Linked DNA regions of Homo sapiens: region 2 is linked to region 1. The links come from fine-mapping of genetic effects on gene expression. A gene starts in region 1. The other region holds a variant in brackets. All regions are shown on one strand. Distances are from middle to middle. Region 1 holds the start of CLEC2A (C-type lectin domain family 2 member A). Region 2 has its middle 6.9 kb from the start of CLEC12A.

Evidence for each region. PIP is the estimated chance that this variant, and not a neighbour inherited with it, causes the effect.
Region 2: its variant is fine-mapped to the expression of CLEC2A in whole blood (TOPMed, PIP above 0.99).

What each region holds. Positions count from the first base shown.
Region 1 is chr12:9,927,846-9,936,181 of GRCh38, reverse strand. It overlaps CLEC2A (C-type lectin domain family 2 member A), which reads left to right and starts at 3,812. Exons shown (of 5, transcript NM_001130711.2): 1 at 3,812-3,907. The coding sequence starts at 3,853.
Region 2 is chr12:9,960,323-9,968,658 of GRCh38, reverse strand. It overlaps a transcript of CLEC12A not described here. Among named protein-coding and RNA genes, the nearest start is that of CLEC12A, 6.9 kb to the left of the region's middle. The variant T/C (reference allele first, on the strand shown) is at 4,823.

The sequences.
Region 1 (8,336 bases):
AAAAAATAGAAAAAATTAGCCGGGCGGGGTGGCGGGCGCCTGTAGTCCCAGCTACTCGGGAGCCTGAGGCAGGAGAATGGTGTGAACCCGGGAGGCGGAGCTTGCAGTGAGCAGAGATCGCGCCACTGCACTCCAGCCTGGGTGACAGAGCGAGACCCCGTCTCAAAAAAAAAAGAAGAGAAAAAATAGATGGTATGTTCAGCATCATCAGAAGCAAATTTTATCAGCATCTCATCTTCTCATTCTCTATGGGGCCGGGATTTAATAGTGTGTAAACCGTGTTAGCAGGTTAAATGCAGGTGTTGTTAAATTATAATTTACATGCTGTACTGTACAAGAACAAAAATAATTCTAAAATTTTCAGATTATTGTGCTACAAAAAATGACCATCGTTAGCAAAAGGAGGATGGGGAATGAGACTTATGCATTTTTAAGGTCATTAAACATCTCCATTAGCCATCTCTGGAGTGGTGACTATCACATTAGAAGGGGACCGCTTTGCATCTCCTAATGATGACATTTCTATCCAGCTGTACTGAAATAGAAATAATGTTAAAAGGAGTCAGAGCGCCCAGTGGAGAAAATTTGACAGGTAAAGAAGAAAAGAGAAAGGAACAAATAATGGGCTGCGGGTTGAATTTTATGAACATGAGCAGAACTTTGAACATTTTTAAGTATAGTTATTCAGGCTAGGTGAGTGGATTGCATCCCCTTCCAACTTATTCTGAGGACAGTACCCAGAGTGAACATATTAAATGTATGTCAGATCACACCGCTATTCTGCTCAAAAGAATTTTCCATCTTCCCATTTCACTTAGAATATTAGCCACAGGCCTCAGAATGGCAAAAACAGAATTACCCTGTTGGTACTTAGCTGAACTCTTCTCTCACTGTTCTCCTCCAGACACAGCTGGCTTCCTCACTCTTTCCGGAATGTGCCAGGCATACATCTGCCCTAGGATCTTCACACAATTCCACCAGGATGATGGTATCCACATGGCACTTTCCCTCCTCAAAGTTCATTTACATTTCACTTTCTCAGTGATGCTTACCCTGACTACCCTATTAAAATTGCAGCTCACACTCCTCAACCTTGACATTACTAATCAATTTTAACCTGGTCTATCTTTTGTTTTCAGTGGAACTTATTACATACTGGAATATGGAATATTGTACCATTTGTTTACTATCTTTAGTCTTTATGTTTAAACTTCCTGGAATGGAAACCCCATGAGTAAAGGAATCTGTGTCTATTTTGTTCACAGACGTATTTCAAGCACCCTGAAAAATGCCAAGTACTAATTAGGCATTCTGTAAATGTTTGTTGAATAAGACAATGAAGAGGCAAATTAAATTAAATACAAAATAGTTTGTTATCCAGGACATTTCTGACTGTATAGCCAAAGCTTTAAAATGAAGATAAGAATAATTTTATAAAATGAATTAGACACATATCAACCCTAGGGAGAATCTTCAAAGTGGTCTGCTCCTTTGAAAAGCCTTAAACAGGAAAGCTTTTATTTAAAGAATGGGCTGGGCATGGTGGCTCACACCTGTAATCCCAGCACTTTGGGAGGCCGAGGCGGGTGGATAACCTGAGGTCAGGAGTTCGAGACCAGCTGGACCAACATGGAGAAGCCTCGTCTCTACTAAAAATACAAAATTAGGCAGGCATGGTGGTGCATGCCCATAATCCCAGCTACTCAGGAGGCTGAGGCAGGAGAATCACTTGAACCCAGGAGGTGGAAGTTGCGTGAGCCGAGATCACACCATTGCATTCCAGCCTGGGCCACAGGAGAGAAACTCCATCTCAAAAAAAAAAAAAAAATGACACTGTGCTTCTGGAAATAACCTAATTATTACCAGAGGAAGGAATTCATGTCTATGCCATACAAGAGCTTTCACCCTTTAGAAGTGTTTTACGGAAGGTCACACACACACACACACACACACACACTGATCAAATTGCGGAATTCTCTGAAGCATACAGAGAATGGCATTTATTCTGGCAAGAACTGTGCAAATTGTTACAAGAAACATAAGGGATGGCAAGTATGAACAATTATATTTCAACAGATGCAGGAAGCAGTTGAAATATGGCTTCTCAACATCTGGGGCTTGCATACTTGTCATCTGGAAACCAGATTGGGTCAGTTACATGTGGAAAGGAATAAGTTATTGCCAGGCCAAATTTCCATATTAAAAGAAGTCTCCATTACCAGATTCTTTTTTTACAGACACCAAATAGACCAGGGAGTTACTAAAAATGGAAGGAGGTCGTGAGAAAGCAAGTCATACTATGAGTAGGACCTCACCTTATGAATTGCCTCTTTAGCAAAATCAACTGCAGAAAGGAAAGACATTGTCTGTTAAATGAAAGGTAATAAATGGAATTCGCAGGTGGACAAAAATACCTCCTGAAATCCCGTAACCCAGCGGGGTACAGATGAGACACGCCCTCTGCAGATACAGTGTGCAACTACCAGTGTGACTCTGAGTGCCCGTTTTCTGTCTCTGCACCGAAGCACCAAAAGCAAAGATTCCAGGCTGAAGCAAATTTTTTTTTTTTTTTTTTGAGACGGAGTCTTGCTCAGTTGCCCAGGCTGGAGTGCAGTGGCACGATCTCGGCTCACTGCAAGCTCCGCCTCCCGGGTTCACACCATTCTCCTGCCTCAGCCTCTCGAGTAGCTGGGACTACAGGTACCCGCCACCAGGCCCGGCTAATTTTTTGTATTTTTAGTAGAGACGGGGTTTCATTGTGTTAGCCAGGATAGTCTCGATCTCCTGACCTCATGATCCACCCGCCTCGGCCTCCCCAAGTGCTGGGATTACAGGTGACAGACACCGCGCCCAGCCAGTTTTACAGCTTTTTATAAAGATAAACATACTTATATGATGCAGCAATTCAATTTCTGGGAATTTATCCAAGAGAAAACTTGCTCACACAAAAATGCCTGTGTACAGCAGTTTCATACATAACAGTCCCACCCTAGAAACAAAAGTCCATCAACTAGTGATCAAAGAGATAATTTCTGGTATAACATGCAATAGGAATACTACTAAGAAATAAAAGGGAATGAACTACTTACCTGCACAACAACTTGAGTGAATCTCAAAAGTATTATAAATGAAATAAGCAAGAGACAAGACACTACATATTATATGATACCATTTATATAAAATTCTATGAAAGGGGCTGGCCGTGGTGGCTCATGCCTGTAATCCCAGTACTTTGGGTGACTGAAGCCAGAAGATCACTTAAGCCCAGGAGTTCAAGACCAGTCTGGGCAATATAATGAGACCTAGTCTCTACAAAAAATAAAATTAGCAGGGCATGATGGTGCGCGACTGTAGTCCCAGCTACTTGGGTGGGTAGGGCAGGAGGATTGCTTGAGCCAAGGAGGTCAAAGTTGCAATGGGCCAAGTTTTCCCCACTGCACTCCAGCCTGGGCAACACAGTGAGACCCTGCCTCAAAAAAAAAAAATTCCATGAAAGGAAAAACTATGTTGATATAAAGCAAAGTAATGCTTGCCAGGGTCCAGGGTCAGAAAAGATAGTGATTACACAAGGAAAAAAAGAAAGATGATGGAAATGTTCCATAGCACGGTTGTTGTGGTGTTTACATGATTGACTTTACGATCCTTTTGTTATGGATGAGTTAATTTTTAAATTCCTTCCTTAAACTAACAAGTCTGCCTACTTTTATCTTTGATCTAAAATTAGTACTGATGTTTTCCATTTGGATTGGTTAAGTCTCTTTTGACTGAAGCTTGCTCAGTGCCTAAATAAGTGATGTACATGAAAAGCTTTCTAGTCCTCTCCTACTGATCTCCATCGGTTAGCGCCTTGCCATGATTAATCCAGAGCTGCGGGATGGCAGAGCTGATGGCTTCATACATCGGATAGGTAAGTTTTATAGAGTGAATGAGAAGGAAGTAAAGGAAAGATAAAACAAAATACAGGACAGCTTAAAAATATGGACTCTTTACTTACTGTGAAAGTCTACTAAAGTAAGTGAGGGATGGGGAAGCACTTCCGGAGAATTGTGGAAGCCTGTTAGAGCATGTAGAGTTTTATGTCTGCAAGAGAGGGTATAAGCTTGTGTGTAAGAAGGTTTTGGGGCAGAATTTTATGGTACGTGTATTATATCTCAATAAGAATATTTTTAAAATGTACTTTCACAGGGAAAAAATTGCTTAACACTTTTATACAGAATAAAAAGCAAATGCTTCACTCTGGAAGGAGGCTTGATGATTGTGACTTCATAAGACTGAAAAGAACTTTTCAAAAATTTTAAGATTCAGCTAAGGCCAACAATGAAGTTTGTTTTCAGTGGATTGAAACATAAACAAACCAATAAATAAAAACAAGGTACACATACAAACACCCTCCATTCACAATAGTTCTGAGGGTTTATGTTAAAGAAAACGAATGAATTGTATGCCAAATGACTGGAATAGGAAGCCTGCCAAAACTTTAAGATAAAGACAGTGAAGAGATAAAAAGTAAAATCTTGAAATGAGTTAAGGACTCCAGCTGAAACCACTATCAGAGTTTACTGATATGAATTCCCAGGGCAATTGGGATAATTCTTTTAATAATAAGTAAGCCTGATACTCTTAAAGGTTGAAGAGACCTCAGTAGCTACCTAGTAAAACTTTTCATCTACCATACGATTTCTAGCTACAGCATTTCTAGCAGCCTATACTAGAATGTTTTCAGTGATAATATCTCTCTGTCTTAGAAGACTTTCCATTTTAATTTAAGGATGTTCTATTTAGAAGTTTCTTTAGGGTAAGGTTAAATTTACTTCGTTGTATATTCTAACTATTGGTCATAGTTACGAACTCTTGATCTATGAAAACTTCATAAGAAAATTTTTAAAAATTAGTCTACATTTTACACAATTGGACATTAGTATTACAAAAAGAAATAAGATTCCATCCCTTTAGCCAAATAAATTAGTCAGGCTTGTCTGGGTAACAGATTTAAGAGTTTAGAGAGTAAAAAGTGGAAGAAAATTTATCTCATTGCATAACGAGAAGACAAAATATGAAGTACTGTGAAGCATGTACTGGAAGATTATGAGAAAGCCGGGCTGCAGGAATCATTAGAACATCTAGTCTGAGAATTTAATTAAAGCATAATAAAAATGCTCCAAAAGAAAAGATATTAATGAAATGAAGAAGCACCAAGAACACAATAAAAACCAAGTGAAAATAATAATTATAGAAATATAGTGTTTGAAATAAAGAACACTTTGAGGAGTTAATTAATAGAATGGACGCTGATTAAGAATGAATAAGACCTAGGAGATGCTATTAAAAACATGACAGAAAAGAAAACAGTTAGAAAATATAAAATAAAAGCTGAGAGATATGAAAAATAGAAGTAGAAATGCCACCTTCTAGATAACAAGAATCTGAAACAGAGAGAGAGAAAAAAAGAATAGCGGATAGGAAATATTTGAAGAAATAATATTCCAACTTCTAAAACTAATAAAAGCCAAATACCTCAAACTGAAACTTCAAAAGTGTACAAACAAAATAGATAAGAAAAAAACATGCATCTGGCACAATAGAGTGAAAGAAAAATATACAAAATTAAAAAATGAGATAATAGGAGACGTTAGTGAAAAAGAGAAGAAATGAGAGGGATAACAAATCAAATGGTGGCTATTAGAAAAGACGAGAGAACTAGATGTCTAAAAGTTTGCAGAAGACGATACAATAAAGAAAATATCAAAAAAGTACAAATAATCACAAAAACCACAAATATTAAAATTTAATAAAACATTATGGAAATAATTCATCAATTATTATGGGGCAAACTCTGTTCCCTTAAAATTTTATATATTGAGGCTCTAACCCCCTCTACCTCAGAATGTGATCTGGTTTGGAGATAGTGTCTTTACCACGTTAAAATTAGGTCGGTAGGTTGGGACCTAATTTAATATTACTGGTGTTCTCATAAAAAAGGAAAATTTAGAGACGGATCCATATACAGGGAGAATGCCATCTTCAAGCCAAGGAGAATGGCCTGGAACAGATTCTTTCCTTACAGGCCTCACAAGGAACCCATCCGACCAACATCTTAATTTCAGACTTCTTGTCTCCAGAACTGTACGACAATACATTCCTGTTAATTTTAGCCGCCCAGTTTGTGACAACTTGTTACGGCAGGCCTAGCAAACTAAAACACTAATGCGCTTATAAATATTAAAAAAAGAAGGTAGAGGTCTAAAAAATATAAAATGCCAAAATGTAATGAGAAGAAATAAATAATTATAGAATTATAGAAATTAAAAATAAATACATTGAAAAGGCAACTAAAATAGAGTAATCTACTGATCTTTCAAGAAATAGCTAATTTTTGTATTGGACATCTTGCTTCAAAAAACAGCAAAATGAGAAATTTACCCCGATTTAATAGACTTTTTGATTTCCAAACAAAGTCAGAACAAGACAAAAAGAAACAGACTCATCTTCTTATGAAATTAGAAGTAGAAATTCCAAGAAAATATTTATTTACTATATACAACAAAGCAGTTAAAAATTCATATACAAGTGGATTTATGTTAGGAATGCTTAGATATCAGAATATCAGTGCAAAAAATATTAAAATTTTTTGAAAGAAAGTCCACACAATTATTCAGTAAGTGCATTTGATAACAACAAGGAAACATGATAACATTCAATGTCTATCTGAGATAAGTCCCTGTTAAGAAACTAGGAATAGAAAAATTCTTTTTTAAATTGCTAATGTTGTATGTTAAATTTATACAGCATTTTTACAGTGCTTAATAATGAAAATTTAAACATTCCATTTAAGATTAAAAACAAGAAAAAAATGTTCACTGTAACTACTACTGTTTAGCAATAGTGTAGTACAATGCTAAAGGTAACCAGTGATATAAGAAAACAAAAGGAATTATAAAGGACAAGGATTGCAATGGAAGAGTTGTATCTGCAATATTTTCAGATAATTTGATTATATAAAAATAAATACCAATAGAATCAACTAGAAAACTATTAAAAATAATACCAGAGTTCAAGAGGGTTACTTAAAAGAGCACATTTAACAAATCAATACTATTTCTGTATACTAGAAGTGTTGTTTTTATTTAGTTTTCTCAGCTTTTTTTTTGTTGTCACTGTGAGAACAGTAGGGATGACTTCCAATCTATTGCAAATATCACATGCCAGAACAGGAATGAAGGACATATATTTTAATTAAAAATAAAAACTGCTAAAGAATTTTCCAAAACACTTATACATTTTTGTACTTCAACCAGTTGTGTATGTGTTTCGGTTCCCCTATATCCTGCTAACACTTGGTGCTGTCAGTCTTTTTCATTTTAACAGTGCAAGTGGCATGTAGTCATATTCCATTGTGGTTTTATTCTGCATTTTGCTTGTGACTAATAATATGGAACATCTTTTATGTGCTTATTGCTCACTTGCGTGTATTCTTCTGTAAGTATTTGTTCAAGACTTTGGTTCTTTTTTTTATCAAGTTGTTTGTACTATATCTCTAAACTACAGACCTTTTAGTATTTTCGATACCAGTCTTTTTTGCATACACATATTGTGACTATTTTCTCCCAGTCTGTAACTTGCATATTTATATTCACAACAGTGTCTTGTATCTTGAAATGGGCAGAGGTTTCTTTCTTTCTTTCTTTCCTTCTTCTTTCTTTCTTTCTTTTTCTTTTTTAAGACAGAGCCTCACTCTGTCACCCAGGCTGGAGTGCAGTGGCATAATTCTGATCACTGCAGCCTCCGCCTCCTGGGTTCAAGTATTCTCCTGCCTCAACCTCCCGAGTAGCTGGGATTACAGGTGCCTGCCATCATGCACAGCTAATTTTTTGTGTTTTTAGTAGAGAAGGGGTCTCACCATGTTGGCCAGGCTGGTCTCAAATTCCTGACCTCAGGTGATCCACCCTCCTTGGCCTCCCAAAGTGCTGGGATTACAGGCATGAGCCACTGTGCCCAGCCCTTAAATTTCAATTAAATTCAATTTATCATTTTCTTTTAATTTTACACTGTACTTTCTCTTCTTTCTCTAAGACAGCTTTACTAATTCTCATGGTCACAAACTATTTTATGTTTTCTAGAAATTGTATGGTTTCAGGTTTTATGTTCAGGTCAATAATACGTCTTAAATAAATTTTGTAAGCTGATGTTGTCGTATGGTAAAGCCTTTTTTTCTCAATTGTTTCAATACCTTTTGTGTAAGACATGGCTTTGCCCACAAATTACTATTTTGGGTGTCTGAAATTTGTGCAGTGGTTTTTATCTTTTCTTCTTCCTTGTTCTTCATTTCTCCCTAATCT
Region 2 (8,336 bases), 32 kb before region 1:
TATGCCTGTGTATATGCCTATGACCTGCATGTACACATCCAGATGGCCGGTTCCTGCGTTAACTGATGACATTCCACCACAAAAGAAGTGAAAATGGCCTGTTCCTGCCTTAACTGATGACATTATCTTCTGAAATTCCTTCTCCTGGCTCATCTTGGCTCAAAAGCTCCCCTATTGAGCACCTTGTTACCCCCACTCCTGCCCGCCAGAGAACAACCCCCCTTTGATGTAATTTTCCTTTACCTACCCAAATCTTATAAAACAGCCCCACCCCATCTCCCTTCGCTGACTCTCTTTGCAGACTCAGCCCACCTGCACCCAGGTGAAATAAACAGCCTTGTTGCTCACACAAAGCCTGTTTTGTGGTCTCTTCACACGGATGCGAGTGAAATTTGGTGCTGTGACTCGGATCAGGGGACCTCCCTTGGGAGATCAATCCCCTGTCCTCCTGCTCTTTATTCCATGAGAAAGATCCACCTATGACCTCTGGTCCTCAGACCAACTAGCCCAAGGAACATCTCACCAATTTTAAATCCAGTAAGTGGCCTCTTTTTACTCTCTTCTCCAACCTCTCTCACTATCCCTCAACCTCTTTCTCCTTTCAATCTTGGCATCACCCTTCAATCTCTCTCTTAATTTCAGTTCCTTTCCTTTTCTGACAGAGATGAAGGAGACGCGTTTTATTCATAGACCCAAAACTCCGGCACCAGTCACGGAATTGGGAAGACAGTCTTCCCTTTGGAATCAGGCAGGGATGCCTGCCTGATTATTCACCCATGTTTCAGAGGTGTCTGACCATGTGGGGACACCTGCCTTGGTCCTTCACCCTTAGCGACAAGTACTGCTTTTCTTGGGAGCAAGAACCCCCAACCCCTTCTCTCCGTGTCTCTACTCCTTCTCTGCTTTTCTGGGGGGCAAGAACCCCACCGCTTTTCTCCATGTCTCTACCCCTTCTCCGCTTTTCTGGGGGGCAAGAACCCCCCAACCCCTTCTCCTTCACCCTTAGCGGCAAGTACCGCTCTTCTTGGGGGCAAGAACCCCCAACCCCTTCTCTCCATGTCTCTACTCTCTCTTCTCTCTGGGCTTGCCTCCTTCACTATGGGCAAGCTTCCGCCCTCCATTCCCCCTTCTTCTCCCTTAGCCTGTGCTCTTAAAAACCTAAAACCTCTTCAATTCACAGCTGACCTAAAACCTAAATGCCTTATTTTCTTCTGCAATGCCACTTGACCCCAATACAAACTCGACAGTAGTTCCACATAGCCAGAAAATGTCACTTTCCATTTTTCCATCCTACAAGATCTAAATAATTCTTGTTGTAAAATAGGCAAACGGTCTGAGGTGCCTGACGTCCAGGCATTCTTTTACACATTGGTCCCTCCCTAGTCTCTGTTCCCAATGCAACTCATCCCAAATCTTCCTTCTTTCCCTCCCGCCTGTCCCCTCAGTCCCAACCCCAAGCATCGCTGAGTCTTTCTAATCTTCCTTTTCTACAAACCCATGTGACCTCTCGCCTCCTCACCAGGCCGAGCTAGGTCCCAATTCTTCCTCAGCCTCCACTTCTCCACCCTGTAATCCTTTTATCACCTCCTCTCCTCACACCTGGCCCAGCTTACAGTTTCATTCCATGACTAGCCCTCCCCAACCTGTTCAGCAATTTCCTCTTAAAAAGGTGGCTGGAGCTAAAGGCATAGTCAAGGTTAATGTTCCTTTTTCTTTATCCCAAATCAGATAGCGTTTAGGCTCTTTTTCATCAAATATAATAACCCAGCCCAGTTCATGGCTCGTTTGGCAGCAACCCTGAGACGCTTTACAGCCCTAGATCCTAAAAGGTCAAAAGGCCGTCTTATTCTCAATATACATTTTATTACCCAATCTGCTCCCGACATTAAATAAAACTCCAAAAATTAAATTCCAGTCCTCAAACCCCACAACAGGACTTAATTAACCTCGCCTTCAAAGTGTACAATAATAAAGTAGAGGCAGCAAAGTAGCAACATATTTCTGAGTTGCAATTCCTTGCCTCCACTGTGAGACAAACCCCAGCCACATCTCCAGCACGCAAGAACTTCCAAACGCCTAAACCACAGTGGCCAGGCATTCCTCCAGGCCTGCCTCCCCCAGGAGCTTGCTAAAAGTGCCAGAAATCTGGCCACCTGGCCAGAGAATGCCCGCAGCCCAAGATTCCTCCTAAGCCATGTCCCATCTGTGCAAGACCCCACTGGAAATCAGACTGTCCATCTCACCGGCAGCCACTCCCATAGCCCCTGGAACTCTGCCCCAAGGCTCTCTGACTGACTCCTTCCCAGATCTTCTCGGCTTAACAACTGAAGACTGTCACTGCCCAATCACCTCAGAAGCCTACAGGACCATCACAGACACTCTAGGTAACTCTCACAGTGGAGGGTAAGCCCGTCCCCTTCTTAATCAATACGGAGGCTACCCACTCCACATTACCTTCTTTTCAAAGGCCTGTTTCCCTTGCCTTCATAACTGTTGTAAGTACTGATGGCCAGGCTTCTAAACCTCTTAAAACTCCCCAACTCTTGTGCCAACTTAGACAATACTCTTTTAAGCACTCCTTTTTAGTTATCCCCACCTGCCTAGTTCCCTTATTAGGCTGAGACACTTTAACTAAATTATCTGCTTCCCTAACTATTCCTAGGCTACAGCCACACCTCATTGCCACCTTTTCCCCCAGGTCAAAGCCTCCTTCACATCCTCCCCTTGTATCTCCCCACCTTAACCCACAAGTATAGGACACCTCTACTGCCTCCTTAGCGACTGATCCTGCACCCCTTACCATCCCATTAAAACCTAATCACCTTACCCCGCTCAATGCCAATATCCTATCCCACAGCACGCTTTAAAAGGATTACAGCCTATTATCACTCTCCTGCTACAGCATGGCCTTTTAAAGCCTATAAACTCCCCTTACAATTCCCCCATTTTACCTGTCCTAAAACCAGACAAGGCTTACAGGTTAGTTCAGGATCTGTGCCTTATCAACCAAATTGTTTTGCCTAACCACCCCATGGTGCCAAATCCATATACTCTCCTATCCTCAATATCTCCCTCCACAACCCATTATTCTGTTCTGGGTCTCAAACATGCTTTCTTTACTATTCCTTTGCACCCGTCATCCCAGCCTCTCTTCACTTTCACTTGGACTGACCCTGACACCCATCAGACTCAGCAAATTACCTAGGCTGTATTGCCGCAAGGCTTCACAGACAGCCCCCATTACTTCAGTCAAGCCCAAATTTCTTCCTCATCTCTTACCTATCTCAGCATAATTCTCATAAAAACACATGTGCTCTCCCTGCTGATCATGTCCGGCTAATTTCCCAAACCCCAATCCCTTCTACAAAACAACAACTCCTTTCCTTCCTAGGCATGGTTAGGGCAGTCAGAATTCTTACACAAGAGCTGGGACCGCACCCTGTAGCCTTTCTGTCCAAACAACTTGACCTTACCATTTTAGCCTAGCCCTCATGTCTGCATGCAGTGGCTGCCGCTGCTTTAATACTTTTAGAGGCCCAAAAAATCACAAACTATGCCCAACTCATTCTCTACGGTTCTCATAATTTCCAAAATCTATTTTCTTTCTCCCACCTGACGCATACACTTTCTGCTCCCTGGCTCCTTCAGCTACACTCCCTTTTTGTTAAGTCTCTGACAATTACCATTGTTCCTGGCCCAGACTTCAATCCAGCCTCCCACAGTATTCTGGATACCACACCTGACCCCTATGACTGTATCTCTCTGATTCACCTGACATTCACCCCTTTTCCTCATATTTCCTTCTTTCGTGTTCCTCACCCTGAACACACTTAGTTTATTCATAGTAGTTCCACCAGGCCTAATCGCCACACACCAGCAAAGGCAGGCTATGCTATAGTACAAGTCACCAGCCCACCTCTTAGAACCTCTCATTTCCTTTCCATCGTGGAAATCTATCCTCAAGGAAATAACTTCTGTTCCATCTACTATTCTACTCCTCCTCATAGATTATTCAGGCCCCCTCCTTTCCCTACACATCAAGCTCGAGGATTTGCCCCCACCCAGGACTGGCAACTCTTAACTCCCTCTCAGAGGGGATAGATAATCTTTGCTGGCAGGGGACCCTCCAATACTTTCACCCTGATGAAGTTCTATTCTTTACTTTTATACTCAATCTTATTCTCATTCCCATTCTTATGCCACCCTCTACCTCTCCCCAGCTATCTCCACCACACTATAAACATTACTCATTCTCTCCTAGCTGTTTCTAATCCCTCCTTAGCGAACAAACTCTAGCTTTGCATTTCCCTTTCTTCCAATGCCTACACAGCTGTCCCCACCTTACATGCAGACTAGGCAACATCTCCTGTCTCCTACACCTCCAAACTTCCTTTAACAGCCCTCACCTTTACCCTCCTGATGAACTCATTTACTTTCTAGACAGGTCCAGCTAGACCTCCCCAGACATTTCACGTCAGCAAGCTGCCGCCCTCCTCCACACTTACTTAAAAAACCTTTCTCCTTGTATCAACTCTACTCCCCCCGTATTTACCTCTCACAACACAAACTACTATTCCTGTGGCTGCTCCTTTATGTATCTCTCAGCAAAGACCCACTGGAATTCCCCTGGGTAACCTTTCACTTTGATGTTCCTTTACTCTTCATCTCCAAAGCCCTCTTGTTGTTTACTTATACCCAGCCCCATAAATAACAGTGAAAGGTAGCTCATAGACACTCAACATTTTCTCATACACCATGAAAATCGAACCTCCCCCTCTACGCAGTTACCCCACCAGTCCCCATTACAACCTCTGATGGCTGC[T/C]GCCCTAGCTGGATCCCCAGGAGTCTGGGTACAAGACACCCCTTTCAGCACTCCTTCTCATCTTTTTACTTTGCTTCTCCAGTTTTGCCTCGCACAAGGTCTCTTCTTCCTCTGTGGATCCTCTACCTCCATGTGTCTACCTGCTAATTGGACAGGTACATGCACACTAGTTTTCCTTACTCCTAAAATTCAATTTGCAAATAGGACCGAAGAGCTCCCTGTTCCCCTCATGACACCGACACGACAAAAAAGAGTTATTCCACTAATTCCCTTGCTTATCAGTTTAAGACTTTCTGCCTCCACTATTGCTCTCGGTACTGGAATAGGAGGCATTTCAACCTCTGTCACGACCTTCCATAGCCTCTCTAGTGTCTTCTCTGCTAGCATCACAGACATATCACAAACTTTATCAGTCCTCCAGGCCCAAGTTGACTCTTTAGCTGCAGTTGTCCTCCAAAACCGCTGAGGCCTTGACTTAGTCACTGCTGAAAAAGGAGGACTCTGTATATTCTTAAATGAAGAGTGTTGTTTCTACCTAAATCAATCTGGCCTGGTGTATGACAACATAAAAAACTCAAGGATAGAGCCCAAAAACTTGCCAACCAAGTAAGTAATTATGCTGAACCCCCTTGGACACTCTCTAATTAGATGTCCTAGGTCCTCCCAATTCTTAGTCCTTTAATACCTGTTTTTCTCCTTCTCTTATTCTGTTTAGTTTTTCAATTCATACAAAACCGTATCCAGGCCATCACGAATAATTCTAAATGACAAATGTTTCTTCTAGCAACTCCACAATATCACCCCTTAGCATGAAATCTTCCTTCAGCTTAATCTCTCCCACTCTAGGTTCCCACATCGCCCCTAATCCCGCTGGAAGCAGCCCTGAGAAATATCGCCCGTTATCTCTCCATACCAAGCCCCCAAAATTTTTGCCGTCCCAACACTTTACCACTATTTCATTTTTATTTTCTTATTAATATAAGGAGACAGGAATGTCAGGCCTCTGAGCCCAAGCTAAACCATCCTATCCCCTGTGACCTGCACATACACATCCAGATGGCCGGTTCCTGCCTTAACAGATGACATTCCACTACAAAAGAAGTGAAAATGGTCTGTTCCTGCCTTAACTGATGACATTATAAAATTCCTTCTCCTGGCTCATCCTGGCTCAAAAGCTCCCCCACTGAGCACCTTGTGGCCCCCACTCCTGTCCGCCAGAGAACAAGCCCCCTTTGACTGTAATTTCCCACTACCTACCCAAATCTTATAAAACAGCTCCACCCCTATCTCCCTTCGCTGACTCTCTTTTCGGACTCAGCCCACCTGCACCCAGGTGAAATAAACAGCCTTGTTGCTCACACAAAGCCTGTTTGGTGGTCTCTTCACACGGATGTGAGTGAAAGTTATAACGGAAAAAAGGGAAAGAAATGAAGACAGGTGAAGAAAAGTGCACAGGGATAAAAATTTGGAGACACACACCTTCAGAGTCACATAATTTAAAAGTTGAGAGACCACAGTGACAGTGATATACTCAGGTACCAAAAAGAAACACACACTTGGGATCCAAAAAAAAAAAAAAAAAAGAAAAAACCGGTTATACATTAAAAGGAAAATTTAAGAAGATAAAATAACAGGACAATTTACAAGATAGAGATAAGACCAAAGGAAACCATGAGGGATAGTGAAATACCCCAGGGCTAGCTACTGCCGGAAGCCATTACTACATTAGGCCTGAGAGAACATTGCTGGTAGCAATTAACTGAAGCAGCAGAAACTATAGCTGATGAAGGCTGCCTCCCTGGAGGTACACTCAGCGAGAACAACTCCATATCCATTTCCTAGTGCTGTAGGGAAGGATTCTCCCACCTTTAAATCTTTTGCCTATTCTTCCTATTAGCACAAACATACCTAGAGCTTCAGGACAATAGTGTCCAGGGATATTATACATGAGAGTCAGTCACCATCCTAGGGCACTGCAAAGGGATTAGAATGGTGAAGAGTAGATTTATTGAAATCATTTTCTGAACCATATGTAGGCCAGTTTTTATCATTTGGCTTGTCAATTGGTGTTTTGATATTTAATTCTTTTTTTTTAGGTTGTCTCATAATTTTTTATTAAATAACAGGCCTTATGTATTAAAAACAGAAATTTTAAATGATCTTCCTACCAAAAAGTTTTGTTTCTTTTTTTCTGGCAGTCACACAGAATATAAGCGGTAAACCTTGATTAATTGGAGCCCCTCAAATTTTGCCTTCTCAGTTGTTTTATACATTTTATCTAAATTTTATAATTATCTTTTTGTAGGTTTCTTTCATCTGATACAAGTTGCAATGCTATGACTAGGATTGGCTTTATTCTGGCTTTGTTCTCCAACAAACTAAAATTGGGAGGTTATATAGTGAGGAAGGAATGTAGCTATGTGCAGGCAGAAATGTAGCTGTGTGGGGAGTGTAAACCAAAAATGAAATTCTAAGGCCCCTCAACCATCTGAATGGACTCCCTCTTCAACCACAGCTCTTTGAAAATTTAACCTGAGAGATGGGTTCAGGCCATGACAGGAAGTGCGTGTCGAACACGCTTCATTATATCTCTCAGGCATTAATACTTAAGTCTCTCTCAAGTCTGCTGTCTGGAGGCTTCATTTGCATGATAAAACCTTGGTCTCTACAACCTCTTACCACAACCCAGACATTTCTTTTCTATTGATTCCAGACCTTTAGATAAACTCAACCAATTGCCAATCAGTAAATGTTTATAGTTGATTGAAGCCTCGTGTCTCCCTAAAATGTACAAAACCAATGTGTACCTGAACCACCTTGGGTGCATGTTCGCAGGGCCTCCTGAGGGCTGTGTCACGGGCATGGTCACTCATATTTGGCTCAGAATAAATCTCTTCAAATATTTTACAGAGTTTGATGCTACGTGGACAGGGGAAAAATAGAAATTAGGCAGAGGTAGGGAAAAAATCATGCTGGGTGAAGGATCTGCAGTCTCATTGCCTGGGTGTGGTGCTCTGATGAGTTTCAGTTCCTTGCCTGAAAGTCGGTTTTCTAAGCAAGAAACTCAGGAAAACAAACAAGTTTCAAGTTTTAAGACCAGACAGGGTCCATTTCTATGTTCCAAAGCAAAACAAACAAAAACAACTGTAAATATTAGTTCTATAAGATAACGGGGCCGGTTTCAGTCTCTCTTTTCTATTTATCACTTCCTCAATCATGGAGAATCTGGTCATTGATCCTTCTGGCTGCTTCATGCTGAGGACGTGTGAGGTGGAATAATGATAAGGAATGGAAATGTGGCACTATAATCAGAAGTAGTCATTGGAGCACTATGATCTGGGTACTTTTATTTCAGTTTTAGAACAACGTTTTAGGCCACATTGAACAAGGATGATAAATAATATAGATAAACCAATTTTAAAATACCAGAGAATTTGGAGTGGATCCCTTGGGGAATCCAAGAGAACAATCCTAAGCCTACCAAAAAGTATTCCTGATTCATTATATCTTATAT